Linked DNA regions of Homo sapiens. The protein of the gene in region 3 purifies or fractionates together with the protein of the main gene of each other region. This does not show direct contact. Each region holds a gene or a part of one and is shown on either strand. Other genes may lie near its edges.

Region 1 (4,648 bases), on a different chromosome or scaffold from region 3:
TGACTACTAGAAAGACTGTATCAAGGTGTAGTGACTTCAAGGACAGAAAAAAATAAATTAAGTATTGATCATAATTTCAAAACAATCAATATCCCGCTAAGTATGAAACAAAAGAGAATGCACATTTTGTGTTAATTTTCATGATAAAAGGGACACGGGTAAAAACCTGATATTTCACTTATATTGCATAACAAGCTAACCAAACTGGACATGGTGGATAAATTATAAAACAAATCATTTTACTTATTTCTATGATTTTTCTTTCAATTAGGTCTTTCAAATAGGACTGAGGTATAGTACACTGGCAAAAATAAAGAGGCAAACAAGAATAGTGCCAAAGTAACAGATACCCAAAACCAAATACCATGTCAGAAAATATCATATAGTAACCATTTATCAGATTAGAGCAGCAGAAGAAAGTTACTTCTAAATCATAATCATTTTAGTGGTATTTGTCAACTTCGCCACGGTAACTTCATAACATCATTCTTCATTTGTGAAGTAGTAAAATTCATGTCAAAAAGGAAGAGGGGAATGGAGGAAGTCAGTTAGTTCATTCCAATAAATTACCTCTCCAGTTCTTATAAACATGCCCATCAGCACAAAATCGAGAAATAATACCTAAGACTAGAAGAGACTTGGTTTAAGTTATGAAGCAAATTAAATGGAAAAATACAAGAAAATAGAACCAATGGGGTTGAAAAAGCCCCTCACTGAAAATCTGTATTAAAAAAAATAAAATTAATAAAAATAAAAATAGAAACAAAACTCTACTAGTACAAACTAGCCTGAGTGGTTTGATGGACAGAGTGATTGGGTCAATTGTCACTGTACTTCCATAAACGGATTTTCTCCATTCATGTTAAAGTAGCACATGAATGTAAGCTCTTTAAGGACTATTTTCATAGGACCCAAATAGTTACTGTATATCCTATAAATAAAAAATATTTTACTTTGATAACTGACTGAGTATGTGGGGACTCCATGTAATCCAACCACATGGTTGTTTGCTGTATAGTCCTGTGCAAATATAAAAAAAAATTTTTTTTGCTATAAGGCTTTGACCCTACAGTTTTCACAGCAACATAACTACTATCCAGCATGTACCATATTTTGCAAGCCTTCAAGTTCAACAATCCAAATTGTCGATTCATATTAGGTCCAAATGCAGCATCCTTGAGGAGTATAGTAGGTCAGTTAATCATCTAGAGACATACAAACTTCTCCTGATTCATCCCATCGAGAGGGATCATTCTGATCTTCTCCATCATCAACTAGCTCTTCATCAGCTTCTCCTACTTCATTCTCCTCGTATTCTTCATCCCGAGGGAATTCTGTATCCTGTCCCTGATCTACACCTTCTTGCCCTCCTGGCTGTGATTTATCTGCACAGTCTACACAAACACCATAACGTCGAGATCCATGTCTTATTCCAACACTGGCTGCTAACATGAAGATCTTCTTACACACCATACATTTGTATTTTTTATCCTTTTTATGCACCTAATTGGAGGGGGAAAAAATCCAATATAAGGATATTATATATAATAGAATGCATTTGAACCACTCAAATTAAACCACACATTTAATAGTGAGTGAATACACCAGTTTCTCTGTAAAAAGCTCACTATCAGTTCATAAAGTCAAACTGTTTAAAGCAATTTAGGAGACAATCTTCCTTAAATTCACAATTAACTGTTTAAATCCCTTTAAACTTCACTGACATAAATATAGTTTATCTCAAAGATCAGCTGTATTTAAAGTTACTTACCAGGGAATGTCTTTTTACATGTTCTCTTCGAGTAAACAGTTTTCCACAAATATCACAGCTAAATGATCTCACTCCTGTGTGAATGAGCAAGTGCCTTTTTAGTGTTCGTCTGTATTTGGCTACATAGCTACAATGAGGGCATTTTAACTTGTTCATGATTAGAGATGATTCACCTATGAGAATTAAAAAAAGAGAAAGTGCTTATTACACATTAAACAGAAAACTTGCTATCAAAACTTCTTATCTCTATCTCTGAGAACAGCAATTATGTGGAGCTACTGCTACTTGGTTTTTAAAAAATGCAGAACATGAAAGCTTTTAATTGTTAACAATTATTTAATTAATTCTGTATTTGTTTAGTTGACTAATACTTGCCATTTTCCCAGGTTTCTTGTTTTGGCCAAGATTCTGGCAATAATCCATACTTGAAATCATTTGAAGCACCTGGTATCAATCCATACTTGAAATCATTTGAAGTACCTGGTATCAATCCATACTTGAAATCATTTGAAGGACCAGGCATCAAACCATACTTGAAATCATGTGAAGTACCTAGTACAAGTAAAAATTCTGAATTAATAATGGTAATAAAGATCTGTCTCTCATCAGAGTCAGAAAACAGAAATTATATTTATATCCTACAGGCATTATGATAGAATTTCATAGTATGAGTTAAATAAAACTGTATTTTAGTCTAAAATTGAGATGTCTTCCTACTTTATTATCACAATTAAACAAAATACCATTCAACTATAGTAGAAGAAATTCAGTTAAAAAAATTAATCATGGGCCAGGCACAGTGGCTCATGCATATAATCCCAGCACTTTGCGAGGCTGAGGCAGAAGGATCACTTGAGCCCAGGAGTTTGCAACCAGCCTGGGCAACATGGAGAAACTCCATCTCCATCTCTACAAAAAAATTTTAAAAATTAGCTGGGCATGGTGGTGTGTGCCTGCAGTCCCAGCTACTGGGGAAGATCATTTGAGCCCGGGAGTTGCAGTGATTCAAGATTGCGCCACTGCACTCCAGCCAGGGCGACACAGTGGGATCATGTCTCAAAAAAAAAAAAAAAAAAAAAAAAAGGTGGCGGGCGGGAGAAAAAAACATGAATATCATTTAATTGTGCAGACGCCACAAGAAATTACCCTTTTAAAGGATGGGTATATTCAAACCAGAACTCCTAATAGTTGCTTTTTCTAACTACTCTATCACTTAAGATTTTATCACCCTAAAGCCCAGCTATCAAATGGGATATTCTCCTTATTACGAATCCAGGACAGGCACATAATTTTAAGATTAATTGGTACAGAAAAATAGACTAAGAATAAAGAATATATATAGGATAATTAAAAATGTAAAGTTCTATTACTAGATCCTTGTTTCAGACATATTAGGGCAAGGTAACTGAATGCTCTCAGGGTTCCCTGAAATTTCTTTCTAACTCCATCCTTAAATAAAATAACGTGCAGAAGATAGAATCAAAATAGAATAATACATGTGCCTAAGGATCTTCAGATTAGCAAGGACAGGAATTATATCCACTGGATTTAATTCCATCTTTAATGTAATTCCTTGGACCAGGAACCTTTTGGCAATAGGAATATATATCCAGAATCTTCCACAACTATTGCCACCCTGATCCAATCAATCATGAGCTCTAGCCCCTGGACTGTCTTCAGTAGCCACCAAAAACTTGTCTCCCTACTTCCACTGTTGCCTTCCTAGAGTCTGTTCTCAGCAGAGAAATCACAGATTCTTTAAAACACTACCTTAAGTCAGGTCACCACTCAGCTTACAAGGCTGCAAAGACTACCCACCCTCACAGTAAAAGCTAGAGACTTTCAATATCCTCCAAAGCTTTACCCGGTGGAGCCCTGGCTTCCAACCACCCTTTCCTTTCAGTCACTCTATTCCAACTATACTGACCTCTGTTCTGTTCCTCGTCCATAATAAGCATGCTCCCAATTCAAAGTGCTTAAGCTTTCCTCTGCCTAAAACACTCCTTGCCAAGATACAGTTCACTCAAGCAGCAATAATACATTTTCCTCCCATGGGCATCACGGTTTTAAAAGTAAAGAATGTTTACCCAAATGGATTTCCTAAGAATCACTTCCCATATATGTTCTCAGACATGCTGTCCCTCTTAAAAATTAAGATAACTTAAGATTCCTTTTTGGTGAAAGTCTTAATACCCAACAAAGTAAAAATGTCTCTAAAATATTTTAAAACTGCACATCATTACTATTACTGTAAACTGTGCTGTACTTGGAATACCGTCACCGGTTTTTGATGTAAAGAAAGCCCCCTGAACCCATAGCTACATAAATTCAACTATAACTCATTATAGCTGCACCTAATTAGTGTTTGGGAGTAAGTTGTAAGAATCCTAAAGTGAAGCATTTCTGTGTGAGGGATAAAGAATGGAACGGAAGTGGTAGCCTGTGGAGGTCAACCTACTGTTAGTTTCACATCTCTAAACAAAGTTTGAGCTTTATGATCCATATTTCTTGTCTAAATCAGTACAAACTCCTGCGCCTATCTTACTTGCCTTGGTTTTTCTATTGTTTAAGACACATGCCCTACAATTACTTGTAGAATAAATGTTATCTAGCAAATGCCAATACATACTTCTGACTTGCTCAAAATACTTGGAAAACTAGTACCAAAAGACACATTAGATGTTCTAGTATCTACAATTAAATATTATTCACAACATGTAAGAATAAGGAAATAGGCCAGGCACAGTGGCTCGTGCCTGTCATCCCAGTAATTTGAGAGGCTGTGGGAGGATCGCTTGAGCCCATGAGATTCAGGCCAGCCTGGGTGACAGAGTGAGACCCCATCTCAAAAGAAAAAGGAGACAGAAGAATATCCCT
Region 2 (3,692 bases), on a different chromosome or scaffold from region 3:
CTCTTTTGCAAAACATTTGCTGTAATGAATGGATTTGTATTTCCAATATGTATCTTGACTGCATTTTGTAATATTTACTGCTTTATTCCTAATTCTGCTTTAAAGTACTGAACTGGGCATGAAACATTAAAATATTAATCCAGAAACTGTATAAACTGGATGTTGCTTAAAATCTGTATCACTGCCATGTTGAAAACTCAGACTGCTTTTGTGATGTTTCAAATGAATAAAACTATCCTCCCCTCGTTATCCACTTGTGTCAAGGTAGCTATAAAAGTACAGCAAACGCTCTAAAGCAACTGACAGCAGCTGACTCACTTTTGACTATTAGGGTTCAAGATAAAAGGGGACATTTTTAACCAACATATAAAACCTAGTGGGAAATTTTGCCGTGCTGTCATCAGAAATACAGCCCCAGTCTCCTGCTATAAAAATTGAAAAACAATATAAAAACCCATATAATTTCTGAAAGACAATCTTGTAAAACACGCACTCAAACATCAGAATTAAATCATTTTATTTTTGCCACAAGAAGCTCTAAGAACTAATATCAGGCCATGGTTAATGAAAAGTAGAACTTAAAGTCATGACAGGGAAGATTGTACAAGTGTGAACATTACAGTACTCGGAGGAATGAACAAGGTTTCATATAGTTGACCAGCCAGAAAGCCAGTGCTGTTAAGTTAGCATTTAATTCTTTAGAATATGCATGCCTTGACAATACAAAATACCTTGATCAGTGTTTACCATTTTTTTATCTTTTTGGTACAATGGGGGAAAAATGCGGCATTATTTCTTCATAGTGGTTGTGTGTGGGGGATCGTTACCACCAAAATCATAATAATCATTTAAAGTATATTTTAAAGTTAGTCTCGCAAGATTGTTATGGCATTTTTAAATTTCTGTAGTTTAAGCATTTTCATTTTGTCATATCTTTTAACAAATTACTATTTCAAGTAGTTCCTATCCAGAATATTTACAGGTAATTTAGCATAGGAGCAAATTTGAAGCTAACTTCAAACAAGAAAAGGAAGTTCAATAGCCAGAGAGCTAAGTATAAGATAAAAAAACAATATGGTAATTTTAAACAGCATCTTGCTACAGATTTCCAATCCAATAAATACCAGGAATGAAGGACTTTTGCCCCAAAGAAGTATTTCACATGAATTCTGAACTTTGGATATGGAAACTTATAGAAAAACTGAAGACCCTGAGACACATGCAAGTAAGAGTCTTCTGGCAAAAATACAATTTAATTTTCCAGTTTCTCTCCTCCCAAAAACTCCAGAAGATACCTTTAGTAGGCACAGAGTTTAAATGTCATATTCAGAATTTACAGAGCACAGCAGCAGCAGCAAATAATTACATACCTATTATTCAGAATGGATAGTTTTCCATTATAGAATTAGTTCCTGGTTTGTCATAATAGACTTGTAGAATCTGCCAAGTTTTATTATGACAAACTAATTGACCTAGCAGTTGAGTCTGAAAGATCTGGAAGCTCTGCCGGCATCCGTATCATTCACATCGGTAGAAGTAATTATGTCTAACTGGTGAAATAGCATTAATGAAACTCAAAACAAATTTTCACTGAGTACATTTCAGAGTGCACACTATAGTCAAAGAGTAATGTTATTAATATCTACACAAAAAAGAAACATATGGTGATTCCAGAGATCACAGAGTCTTAAGTTATCAGGTAATTTCAAATTTCCCAGGGGTTAGTTTACAAATGGTTTGAAGGTCTAGACTTACAGAACAGAAAACAGATAAATGCACATCACTCTACCTCTTGGCAAGCAAAGGATTTTTTTTCTTGTATTATTGCATGAACTGATGCCTGATACCCTCAGCTACCAACTTAAGAAACACTGAAACCACTACCTTCAAATCCAGCTTACCATCAGAAGAACGATGTATACATGAGAAATTATGATTAAAGCTTTAAGTTCAAAGTCAAGAAATAGACTATATTTTAAAATACATGGTCAGGAGAAAGAAAATATCTATGTTGGACTAAGAAATACTTAAGCAAGGTTACAAATGACTAATAACTATGCACAACAATCTTTTCCAGTATCAATTTTTTCCTTTGCAAAAAAAAAAAAAATCATTTACAGACGTTCAACAATTCTGTTATAAATGCTAGGCTATATGTATGTTCCAACCTGTTTTCTTTTAGTACTAGCACAGTTTAGTACTAGCACTTCAGTAAGTGTTAACTTTATTTTCTAAGTGTTTAAATATGTGTCATTTTTAAAAGTGGTATTTATTGTTGTCAAGAAAAATGGGAACTGACAAGCCTATATAACATTCCTTATGTAGTTTCTGATTACTATAATATTGCAGCAATTTGCAGATGGAATAAAACTTATTTTAGAAGGGGTAAAAACCTAACAAATCTTGCCGAAAGGAAAATACTAGATCACTGATTCAACTATTTCAAATAAAGACTTCCTAGTGGAGATTCTACGCAATATGAACATTTAAAAATATATGCCAGTAGCCTCCCACCCAAAATATGTAAAGTCTCACCCATGGAATCTATCATTTACAAGGATTTATACATAAAGATACATTTGGTGGCTTTCAGATTCAAAATTTGAAAATTTTCATGTTCATGGGAATATTTTTAACCTTAAGAAGCCAAAAGGAAATCTTCATTCCATTCTCTACTATGTGGTAGCCAGAGAATTAAAAATCCATGCAACAGAACTTTTCATCTCCTCCTATCTGCCATTACAGAGATTGTTTTCATTAGTTTTTTGCCCCCAGAGACCACACTGCGAAGGTATAAAGTGGTCTAGCCACCAAAGTCTTTTACAGACTATGGCAATGAAAGCCAGGATTAATTCTAATTAGCTAAATCTAATTTGTTCTTCAGATGAGAGACTTGTCTGCATGGCTATTTTCATAGAGGGAGGGTAGCAGGAGGTTGCTGTTCGCTTGGACTAGCAGATTACACAACCCAAGTACTGACTTATTCTGACATTTTCCAGAACAACTCTAAAACTTATTTACTCTTTATGCCATATACAAGACAAAACACACATTTATTGTCTCAATGTTAAGAAAATTGAGAATTCAGCAGTAAAGTGCTAACATGGAAGGGGAAAGCTGTAAGATGTACTAGGGTATGCTAATAACTCCAGTTATTTTCAAAGAACATTCAGACTGCTTCAAATTCTATTCAGGAAACTATCTCTCCAAGCTTTTAATTTTTGCCTCTTTTAAATGAGCTGAAAACTAACTATATAAACAGATACTTGGGGAGGGGGTCTCACCTCTACTCAAAACTTTCAGGAAAATTTGCTTCTAAAAATTATCAACAAAAATCCCACTACACTTCCTTCAGATAATGTGGCAGATCAAATTAACTTGTTCGCACCTTAATTTGTTTTACAGATCTTCTGAAACCCCTGCCCCATCATCCAAAACAAAACTTTCTAGTATTTCAAAGGAGTTTAGTAAGACTCTGGTATTATAAATTCAAACTCAGTACTGCCATCTGTTACATTTTGTTTAAAAATTGAATCATTTTCCTGCTGAATAAAAATATCTTCCCAGGTCATTGGCTTGTTCTGAGTAGATGTAGTGGTCCCTACTGGAGGTTCTTTTCCAGTGTCAACCTTATACCCAATACCATCATCCTTCATTGCAGGAATAGTGCTTGATCTATCGGAAAGATATGC
Region 3 (5,797 bases):
GCCTGGAGGACTCCCGTTAGCATTTCTTGTAGGGCAGATCTATTAGTAACAAACTCCTTTAGCTTTTGCTTATCTGGAAATATCTTAATGTCCCCTTGAGTGCCCCTATTCTTTAACAGTTTTGACAAATACAGAATTCTTGCTTGACTTTTTTTTCTTTCGACACTTTAAATATTGTTAGCCCACAGCTTTCTGGCTTCCATAGTTTCTGATGATAAAACAGTTGTAAATCTTATTGAGGAGTGCTTGTATGTGATGAGTCACTTATCTTTTGCTGCTTTGAAGATTCTGTCTTTGACTTCTGACAATTATACTATAATGTGTCTCAGTGTATATCTCTTTGACATTATCCTCCCTGAATTTATTGAGTTTCTTGGACGTATAGATGCGTATCTTCCACCAAATTTCGGAAGTTTGGGCCATTATTTCTGCAAATATTCTTCCTGCCCCTTTTATTTCTCCTTTCCTTCTGGAATTAGCAAAATGTGAATGTTTTTCTGCTTGATGGATGTCCCACCCATCTCTTAGGCTCTACTTACTTTTCTTCACTCTTTTTTCTTTCTCTTTCTTAGACTCAATAAATTCAATTGTCCTATCTTCTTTCTTCCACCTGCTCACTTCGGCTCTTGAATCCCTCTGGTAAATGTTTTATTTCAGTTATTGTACTTCTTAGCTCCAGAATTTCTATTTGGTTCTTTCCATAATTTCTAGCTCTTCATTGACATTCTCAATTTGTTCATACATTATTTTCCTAATTTCCTTCATTTCTTTGGCCATGGTTTCCTTTATGTCTTTGAGCATATTTCAGATAATGGATTTAAAATCTTTAGTAAAATCTTTAGTAAATCCAATGTCCAGGCTTCCTCAAGAATGGGTTCTATTTATTCTTTTTTGTTTTAATGGGTAATACTTTTTTCTTTGCATGCCTTGTAATTTATTGTTGAAAACTAAATATTAAAATATTAGATTATAATGTGGTAACTTGGGAAATTAGATTCTCCCCACTTCCCTACGCTTCACTATTTTTGATTAATCAAGGCTTAGCTTGTGTTCAGCCAGTGTTTTGAAAGAGATTTCCTTGGATGCCAAAGCTTAAAAACAAAACTAAAACAAAAAACAAAAGCACTTATTCAAGTCTTTGCAGACTGGCTCTGTGCTGGGATATTTCTTTAAGACTTAGCCATACCATTCACAACTCTGCCTTGGCCTTTACTTCCTGCTTGTACTGGACCTAGCAAGCACACAGTGATAAAGTTTACAGTCTTCTTAGGTCGTTCCTGAACAAGTGTCCTGCCCTGGGCATGCATGCGGCTTTCAAAATTCCCTTCTATACACTGAGGCTGATTGTCCTAATTTCAAAACAAAAACAAAAATAAAAACAAACTCTCTCCCAGGCTCTTTCTCCTAGGTCAATTGTATGTCTCACCATAATCTATTGCCCAAAGAAGCTTGCTCAAAAGCAAGTTTCTTTCATTTGCCTTATACTGTGTTCAATCAATGCCCACTAATTTTCCTCCCTGACTGGGTTCTAAATTAGGTAAAACAGATATATAAGCACCTGCATCAGCCCTTCAAATAGCTCTCAGGTAGGTTGATCAGACAAATGAATAATTTGCAAATAAGGTCTGCTCTGTTCCCTCTGGAACCAGGGATCTGGGTCCCACACTGGGAACTCGGACTGCTATCTTCAAGACTGTTGCCAAGCTGGGGAATGGGTGAGGCACAGGCAAGTAAAAAACCCACAAAGCATTCTTTCCACCTTTCAGTTGCATTTTTCTTGTCTAGCATTCCTTTGGTTGCTATAAACCTTTGACGTTTCCAGAGTTCTGACAAAGTTGGATCTGATAGTTTAGGCTTGTTTTTCAATGTTTTTTTGGAGAGGCAGGCTTTTGGAGCTGCCTGCTCCAACATTTTGCTGATAGTACTCTAAGTAGTTATTTTTAAAGACCTAAAAATTGATAGCATAGCCAGATCAAAATTTACTAATGTAACATTTATTATTTTTGTACCATTTTATCTGAAAAAAGCCTACAGTGACTTATTTACAGAAATTTCTACTGAGCTCCATGAGCTGGAGTGTTAAACTGCTAAAACTGCATATAATTGAGTCACATAATATAGTAACAATGCATACAATTTCTTAGATATATTTTAATACTTTGACTACTATTATCGTTTGTTTACTGGCAAGTGCTAGATGATAACAAAATATTAGGAAAATTGAAACAGCCCTTTATTCTTAAATAGATTTTTCCTCTAGATACATGATTGTAGTTTTAAAAGATATATACAATAGGAACACATTCCACTGGTAAAATTATTTTGAGTGACTATTATGAAAATAAAAATATAAATATTTCAGGGTGGTATTTCACAAAGAGGATAGTATTCAACCAAAACCAGCCTGATTTTTTTAGGTGCTTCACCATGCTTAAGAAATATTGTTAAGCAGAATCCAATAGTTAAAACATTAGAGTCTACATCTATTAGAGCTCCAAATTGAAATGCTATAAGCAACTGTTTTTGTAAACAAACTGACAGAATTCAAAAGGCACACATATTTGGTATCCGCTAAAGTCAATCAAAATTATAGCAGTTATAAAGAAAATATATTCTAAAGAAATTATCAATAAAATTTACATATATCATTCTAAAACATTTCTCAATTTTTACTGACAGAAGAGGGAAAAAACAGAACCCTGCAACAACTTAATCTGTAGAATCAACAATTCAGTCAATTGCTAAATTAATGAGTTCAAGAAAAAATAACAGTCCCAGGCAAATCATCAATTATGGCTAGTTCCCTCTTAGGCTTTCGTAACTCTATTATACATTTTAACATAGCACTGTCAGTTTACTAAAACCATAATATAAATCCATATTCGGATTTATGAAATATCACTAGGTCATAAAATTAATTTAGTGAGTGGGTCAAGGCCAACATTTAACATAATAGTATAGAACAGAATAGATAATATCCATGTGCATTGCACATAAGGATGTGTATTGTTTCATAAAACTTAATTTCTATTTTATGTATATATGAAAGCCATTCTCTTTCTACTATACCCATAACACTATTCCATCAGAGGAAAGAGTCTATTATGAAATCAGACATACCCAGCTATAGCGGTCTTAAGTACAGAAAAATATTCTCTACACTGCAATGAGATCCTATGTAATTACTTAAGAAGAAAACTACCTAAGGGGAAAAAAATTTGTTTTGCTACTTTTATCAGAATATTACCTCACGTGTAACTAATTCATAATTCAGAAACCATAAATATCCGAAGGAAACATCTAAGTAACAGGCTCCAAAATACCTCACATTCTAGAGAAGATTTACATAATTACTCTCAAAGTTGTAAATATAAGATAAATTCATAATACTTGATTAGCATATTAAATGTTGCTCCTTCTCTACTTCAACCATGACTACGATCTTATTCTTTTTCACAAAAATTACTAGGTATACCCTAAGAAGTCTGCTAAACTACTACCTATTTGTGTTATATCAGAATTAAATATGAAATAGATTTAATCCAGTTCTTAATACATACACCTTTTTAAAATGTTTCATTGTGAAAAATAAATTGCTGAGAAATTTCCATCAAAGTAAATAAAATCATGCTATATACACAAAATATATATTTCTTCATAAAAGATTAATTTAATATGTTTAAGAACTTCATGAAATGCTTTGCTAGTAAATAATCCTGTACATAGCAGAAATGAATCAAGAAAAATATTAAAACAAATAAGACTTTTTGCACAATATGCCTTTGCAAACAAAATAGGCTCCCTTATAAGTTGGTAACATTCTTAATATATAAGTTGTACTGACACACCCAGTACTCACTATTTAGGATAGAGTCTTCCCAAATTTCTTTTCATACCAAGCTTTCAGTTAATTCATACATAAGGTTTAAATTTAAGGATATTCATCTGTTGAATAAATAATCCACTCCGAGCCAAGAAACCTTAAATGCCATTTCCAAAGGAAGTATAATAAACAGAAGGTATGCATAATACTATTTTTAACCCAGTTATTGTACCAAATAGAGGTAATTAGGCCTTTGTTCTAACTTTTATAATCTTCAATTTGGACGTCCATTTATCCCTTAAACATTCAGATATTTAAGCATGTATGTCATCTAGTATAATAAAAGGGGAATTAAAATGTTAATTTTTAAAACCTCATGCTGACCAAAACTACGCAGTTGCCCAAAGCAAAATGTGGTAAAAAATTTAAGTAACAAAAGCATAAATTTATAAAATGGCTGGTCACAGAAGTTCAGGCTCTCACTATAAAACAAAGCAGTTAATTTACTGATTATAACCATGGCACTCTAGTTAACTAATCTAAACAAATATTCATTAATAGGTAAAAAAGATGATTCACTTGAGTCTCTGGGAACTATTTTTAACGTAACCATTTAAAATGTTGTTGCTAGAAAACATTTTTAATTAATTCAAGTAAAATCACTTTATAAATGCTAAAATTTACCTGCTTGAGTCCTTCATCAGTGAGTTTGTCCTGGTTGCCTACATGCACTTTCTGAAGTAAAGGACAGTGAGAGGCAACCGCAATAATAGAGGTGTCAGAAAGCTGTTTACACCTGTAGGCTGTATACCTAAGAAGTCCAGGACATTTAAATGCTAAAACACATACGCCATTATCAGACATACTGCGACAATCAGAAATGTTGATTTCAATTATATTCTGACTTCTTGATGCAATTTTTTCCAACAATTCATCAGTGACCTGTAAGAGAAAAAGCAATAAATTTAAACTTTTGCTAAAAATAAAAACGTATTTTCCATTTTTTAATTAAATGTTCCACAATAAACAATATACTAATTAGATTATAGCATGAACGATATAATCAAAAGAGAAACCGTCTTAACATTGAAGCATAACAAGAATTTGGTATAATAATAATATTGTAATTGGTCTTTGTCCTGAATTCTTGCCACATATTTCCCAAAACTCTTGGAATTTCCTAAGCAATAGAATTTCTTTAGTTATTCATAACAAGCCCTTTAGACCATATCTGAGTTCATACTAATGAAGTGACTTAGAGTGGGGCGCCTAGATGGCTTCAGAATGGGGGCTGGTTACCAGAAAAACTAAACCCTTGATTAGAGGGTGATAACTTTCAACACTACTTACAGGAGAGGAAGGAAGCTGGAGATTGGGTTATAAAAACTCAAATGACAGAGATTCAGATGGTAAACAACATCAAAGTGCTGAGAAGGTGGTATATCCCATACCTTGCCTTCTGCATCTCTTCCAGTGGGCTGGCCCTGAGCTATATCTTTTATAATAAACCCATAAATATAGTAAGTATTTTCCAGAGTTCAGTGAATAGTTGTGGCTAATTATCAAAACTGAGAAAGAAATTAAGGGAACTCACAAGTTTATAATTGGTCAGTGAGAAGTTCAGGTGGCTTCTGGGACTTGCAACTGATATCTGAAGTGTGGGTAGTCTTGTGGGACTGAGCCCTTAAACTCAGTGATACCTCTGGGAGTTAGTTGAACTGAATTGTTGTACATCCAGTTAGTGTTAGAAAATTGTTAGTGTGGAAAAACTCCACATATTTGATGTCAGAAGTGGTATCAGAAAACACCAACAAAGGATATGTGTTCGTCTCATTAAAAGCCTAAAAATCTATCCTTAGTGGGAAAATTCAAATTCAGCAAAAACTCACCACAAATAAAACTATACTGAGATTTTCAATGTTTCACTTTCCATTTGTAACCCATGAAATAGTATACATCAGTAATAATGTTATA
Region 4 (4,648 bases), on a different chromosome or scaffold from region 3:
ACTTGAAATTAACATTACCAAAATTCAGCTTTGGTATTTAAGACAGAAATAGATAAGTTTATTAAAGTATAATTTTTAATACTTACTATCTAATTTTTGTCCTTCTGTAAAAGTTTCTAGGGCAGCAGCATAGTTTTTTTCATGGTATTCACATATTCTGCATGAATATATTTAAAACAAATTAAGACACACAAAAAATCTGGAAAATACCTTCTTTCTAAATAAAAAACTTAGTATTTTCTACTGTTGAAAGAAAAAATTTATTTTAAGTGTATGTTAATAAACCTAGAGACTTTCTAATATACTGTTAAGATCTAGTACAATTCCTACTAAAATTCAATTTTAGAACTCACTTCAGAAGGAATCTGACTTTAATTGTACAGACTTGCTTACTCAAAAATATAATTATACAAAGGAATTAAAGAAGTTTCTTAAAGAATAGTTATACTTATCAACAGAAACAAGATGGGATATAAAGTATACAGATATAGCGCTTTCATAGCATTAAATGTAGCCTATTCAGCTTTGCTGAATAGGATGTTGTCCAGTCAATTAAATATAGTAAATTCCAAAAGATTGAAAAAAAAAAAAAAAAAAGCAATGTGAAATCTATCAGTTTCATCTATACCTTGCAAATACTTCAATCATCACTATTTTAAAATTTACTAAGTACAGATCTCCTATCACATACTTTGGTTAACAAAATAATAGAACTATAAGTTGTATTTAAAATTGAATCATATCTCTGCTATATAATGTATAAATACAGAATTTTACAACTTATATAAAGCTTGCAATGAACTCATTCAACAAATTAAATACCTACTATCTATACCAAGCTCAACAAGAAGAGTAGCTACTGCATACCCTTTTCTCAGCATAGCAGTGGAATTATTTGGATTGAGTTCTAGAGACTTCTTTGCATCAGCAACAGCAACTGTGTAGAAAAAGACGGGTTTTTAGTCAGTTATTTATAGATCCTAGCAAATACACACAACATATGAATCAGTTTTAGATTTCTAAGTTTTCAAGTTGGTAGAAATGCCAAATGGTTTTAAATTAGGAAAAGCTAATACAAGATAGAATTCAAATAAATATTACTCTTGTACCTTCCTTTTGGCTTAACATTTAGCTTCCTTCTTAAAGCTCTTCAATGAATACAGCTGTGTCACAAAATTCACCTCCTTGTCTCATTAACATTTTCTATGTAATTTTACTCAAGGTATTCAGTTTTTCCCTATTCAGAAGGTACAAAATACAGAAATACATTACTTTTTAAATACAGGTGGTCTTGTTATGTTGCCCAGGCTGGTCTTGAACTCCTGGGCTCAAATGATCCTCCTGCTTTGGTCTCCCAAAGTGTTGGGATTACAGGCGTGAGCCACCATGCCTGGCCACATTCTTTTTTATAAAAAAAATTTAAACGAGCATTTCATTTTAATAGTCTGTCAAATAGTAAATGTGATGCTATTTTTTATCAGCATACCCAATAACTATGAATGAAATCTGTATACATTCTCCACCCAATGAAGGAAAAAGCGACATCCATAAAATTTAAATGGGTGTTGCTCAACATGTCTGTCACATTTGAGCTACTTTACCTTGTATAAAAGACCAATTTAAAAATTCTCAAAGACAACTTTTAATTTGTCATGGGTAAAATGTATAAGTAACTTATTAAAAGGGGGCAATATACTTTATAAGAAACGTTACCACAGTAATTCCCAAGAAGAATGTGACAATAAGCTCTTTGACAATAATACTGTGCATCATCTGGTTTCTGTTCCAAAGCCTTAGTCAGCTCCTACAAAAACAAACATGTGGAGCGTCAGTAAAAGTTTGTAAGAAGCCATCAAATTCTAATTAAAACATAATTTTTAATCAAGTAACTTATTGTCAGAAGCTATTTGGAGGAAAGATAACACGGATATAATATTGGAGTTTTTCCTTATAAAAGGATCAATATCTCCCCCACTTCTCTTGCCCCTCCTCCCAAAAGTAGGCAATCTAATGTAGCATCTCTGTACCGTAAAGCTTTTAGTTCCTGGTCTATAGAACTTAATAAATGATCATTATTATCAGCTCATATATTCTGAAGAGTTTAATTGTTACACATTGACCATTACAGATTTCCTCCTACTAATTTGAAGAAGATTCAAACACCATATAGAATTTGAGATTCCTAGAAAATGTTAAGCTGTGCAATAAAAAAAGACCAGAAGTTAAATCTAGCACTCAGGGAGGTTAAGACAATCAATACATACACAATCAAGTGTACCTGGCCCTCTCCTAGCCTCTAACAATAGCACACAACTCTAATAAAACCCAACTAAATATTCTGTTCAAAGCCCAGATACAATCTAATAGATGGCTATGTCAACTACCAAGAGTTAACATTAGAGATTGAAACTTTTTTAACTTGTGCAGTCACAACATATAGGTGTGGTAGCTGGAAAAATAATGATGTAAGAGATTACACAATTAGGGAGATCAAAGACAAGTGCAGGAACACTTTTATTTTCTGCCAACTGCCTACAAACTCTAGGGATTTGGTAGTTTTCTTAAATGGTAAAATTATTTCAAGAGCCACATGTATCATTGACTTTGCTTTAACCTAGTAGTGTGACTCTCAGAAAGCAACATATACAGATGCTCCTCAACTCACATGGGGTTACAGTCAATCAACAGAAAGTAAGGCTCAAATCAAGAGAGCAAAGAAGCTGTAAGATGCTACTTTAAGGGCCTCACTTTGTAGCTTGCAGGCAGTTATAAGGAATTTGGACCTTACGTTTGATGGAAAGCCATGGAAAGTTCACTGTTAGTAAGGGGAACATGGTCCAATTTACTTTTTTTTAATGTCATTCTGGCTGCAGTATGGTAAATACATTATCAAATCAAGACTGGAAACGGAGACTTCTTAGGAAACTATTACATTAAGTCTAGGCTAGAAAAGGATGTTAGCCACAGAGGTGATGAAAAGAAATACGATTAAGTTGGAACATATTAGAAGCAGAGAGACTTGCTAATGGGTGAACATGTGGGATAAGAGAAACTGAAGATGACTCCAGGGTGTTGGGCTTGCCTAGATCTGTATGTGACATCCAGTAATCACTCAATGAAAAGTATTGATTTTTCTTCTTGCAGACTTTTTTCAGCCTTTTCCCCAGTCTCTACTTTGACTGCATCTCCTTTGCCATAGAATACAAAAATATTTGCCTCTCTAGTCTTAATCTTCTCAAAGTCACTAATAACCCCTTATAAAATCCAACTGATTCCTATCTGACTTGATCTCTCTGTGGCCCTTGACAATAATAACCAGGCCTTTCAGCTTACCATTCTGCTGCCTCTTAAAAACTAATGTTCTCCTTGGGCTCAGTACTTAAGACTTCTTCCCCTCTACAAACATTCTTTGATTCCTTAACTACTGGGGGGCTTCACATATGTGTTGATGCATGCTGATGACTCAAGTCTATCTTGAGCCTAGACAGTGGTCCTGGGCAACATCAGCATATAGTTTTCTCTAAACTTTACCTGAAATGTCCCAGAGGCAACTCATATACAAATATTCACAATCTAAAACTACTTTCTATCCTCAAACCTATTCCCCCATGCTGAAGGCAATCTTCTAAGTGCTATCATCCTAAGTGCTATCTAAATGAATGGCACCAGTTCCTACAACATTCCCCCAGCCAGAAACTCAGGAGACATCCCTTATATTCTAATCGTCACCAAGTCCGGTGCATTTTACATAAAACAACTCACCTCCATGCCCTCAATCACTGCCCTACATGCAAATATTCATCTTTGACCCGGTCTGCACTACCATCTTCCTGCTATCCACTATCCCTTGTGCCTCCTCCAATTCGCTATCTACTCTGCTTTTAAAGTAGGTTTTGTAATTCAGAAAATTTCATTTTCCTTCCTCCAAATTCTTGACGGATCTCCATAATCATATGATAAAACTGAAAACCCTGTGCTGGGATTTAATGCCTTTGATGGCCTGGCCTCACTGTCGCCTGGGCTGGAGTGCAATGGCGCGATCTCAGCTCACTGTAACCTCCACCTCCAGGGTTCAAGTGATTCTCCTGCCTCAGCCTCGCAGGTAGCTGATTACGGCTGCCCACCACCATGCCCGGCTAATTTTTTGTATTTTTAATAGAGACGGGGTTTCACCATGTTGGCCAGGCTGGTCTCGAATTCCTGACCTCGTGATCCGCCTGCCTCGGCCTCCCAGAGTGCTGGGACTATAGGCGTGAGCCACCGCGCCCGGCTGCACTTCTAATGAATTGCCAGGTGATGCTGATAATGCTGGTCCAAGAGCCATACATTAAAAACCAAGGTACTAATACTAGCCACATGACTATCCTAGGCAATTCTTCTCCTAGGTACATACAACCAAAAGAAATGCATGTGTTCACCAAAATACATGTACAAGAGTATTCACAGAAGCTTTTTGTTAGCTAATAACTAGAAATAACCCAGATGTCCACTGTTAGAATAAATTGCGCCGTACTTACGGCTATACAACATATATTTATACAATGGAATATTACACAGCAATGCGAAAGAACTACTACTTCACACAATATGAATGTATACTTATGTAATCATTAAAGCAAAAAGAGTGTCTACATTCAATAAAGCACCT

The links. The genes of interacting proteins can lie anywhere in the genome.
Region 1: the proteins of FBXL17 (region 3) and ZBTB10 purify together in Homo sapiens (affinity purification with western blotting; 3 studies listed by BioGRID and IntAct, with this or other methods). This does not show direct contact.
Region 2: the proteins of FBXL17 (region 3) and ZBTB33 purify together in Homo sapiens (affinity purification with mass spectrometry; 2 studies listed by BioGRID and IntAct, with this or other methods). This does not show direct contact.
Region 4: the proteins of FBXL17 (region 3) and SUGT1 purify together in Homo sapiens (co-immunoprecipitation; 2 studies listed by BioGRID and IntAct, with this or other methods). This does not show direct contact.

What each region holds. Positions count from the first base shown.
Region 1 is NC_000008.11:80,516,078-80,520,725, reverse strand, and holds part of ZBTB10 (zinc finger and BTB domain-containing protein 10), read right to left. Parts: intron 2,324-4,648; coding exon 2,147-2,323; intron 1,945-2,146; coding exon 1,772-1,944; intron 1,504-1,771; coding exon 1,198-1,503; 3' UTR 1-1,197. UniProt on the Homo sapiens protein: May be involved in transcriptional regulation.
Region 2 is NC_000023.11:120,255,207-120,258,898, reverse strand, and holds the end of ZBTB33 (transcriptional regulator Kaiso), read right to left. Parts: coding exon 3,465-3,692; 3' UTR 501-3,464; downstream 1-500. UniProt on the Homo sapiens protein: Transcriptional regulator with bimodal DNA-binding specificity.
Region 3 is NC_000005.10:108,360,231-108,366,027, forward strand, and holds part of FBXL17 (F-box/LRR-repeat protein 17), read right to left. Parts: intron 4,766-5,797; coding exon 4,508-4,765; intron 1-4,507. UniProt on the Homo sapiens protein: Substrate-recognition component of the SCF(FBXL17) E3 ubiquitin ligase complex, a key component of a quality control pathway required to ensure functional dimerization of BTB domain-containing proteins (dimerization quality control, DQC).
Region 4 is NC_000013.11:52,654,688-52,659,335, reverse strand, and holds part of SUGT1 (protein SGT1 homolog), read right to left. Parts: intron 1,805-4,648; coding exon 1,714-1,804; intron 1,238-1,713; exon of another isoform or gene 1,129-1,237; coding exon of another isoform or gene 1,110-1,128; intron 938-1,109; coding exon 868-937; intron 158-867; coding exon 87-157; intron 1-86. UniProt on the Homo sapiens protein: May play a role in ubiquitination and subsequent proteasomal degradation of target proteins.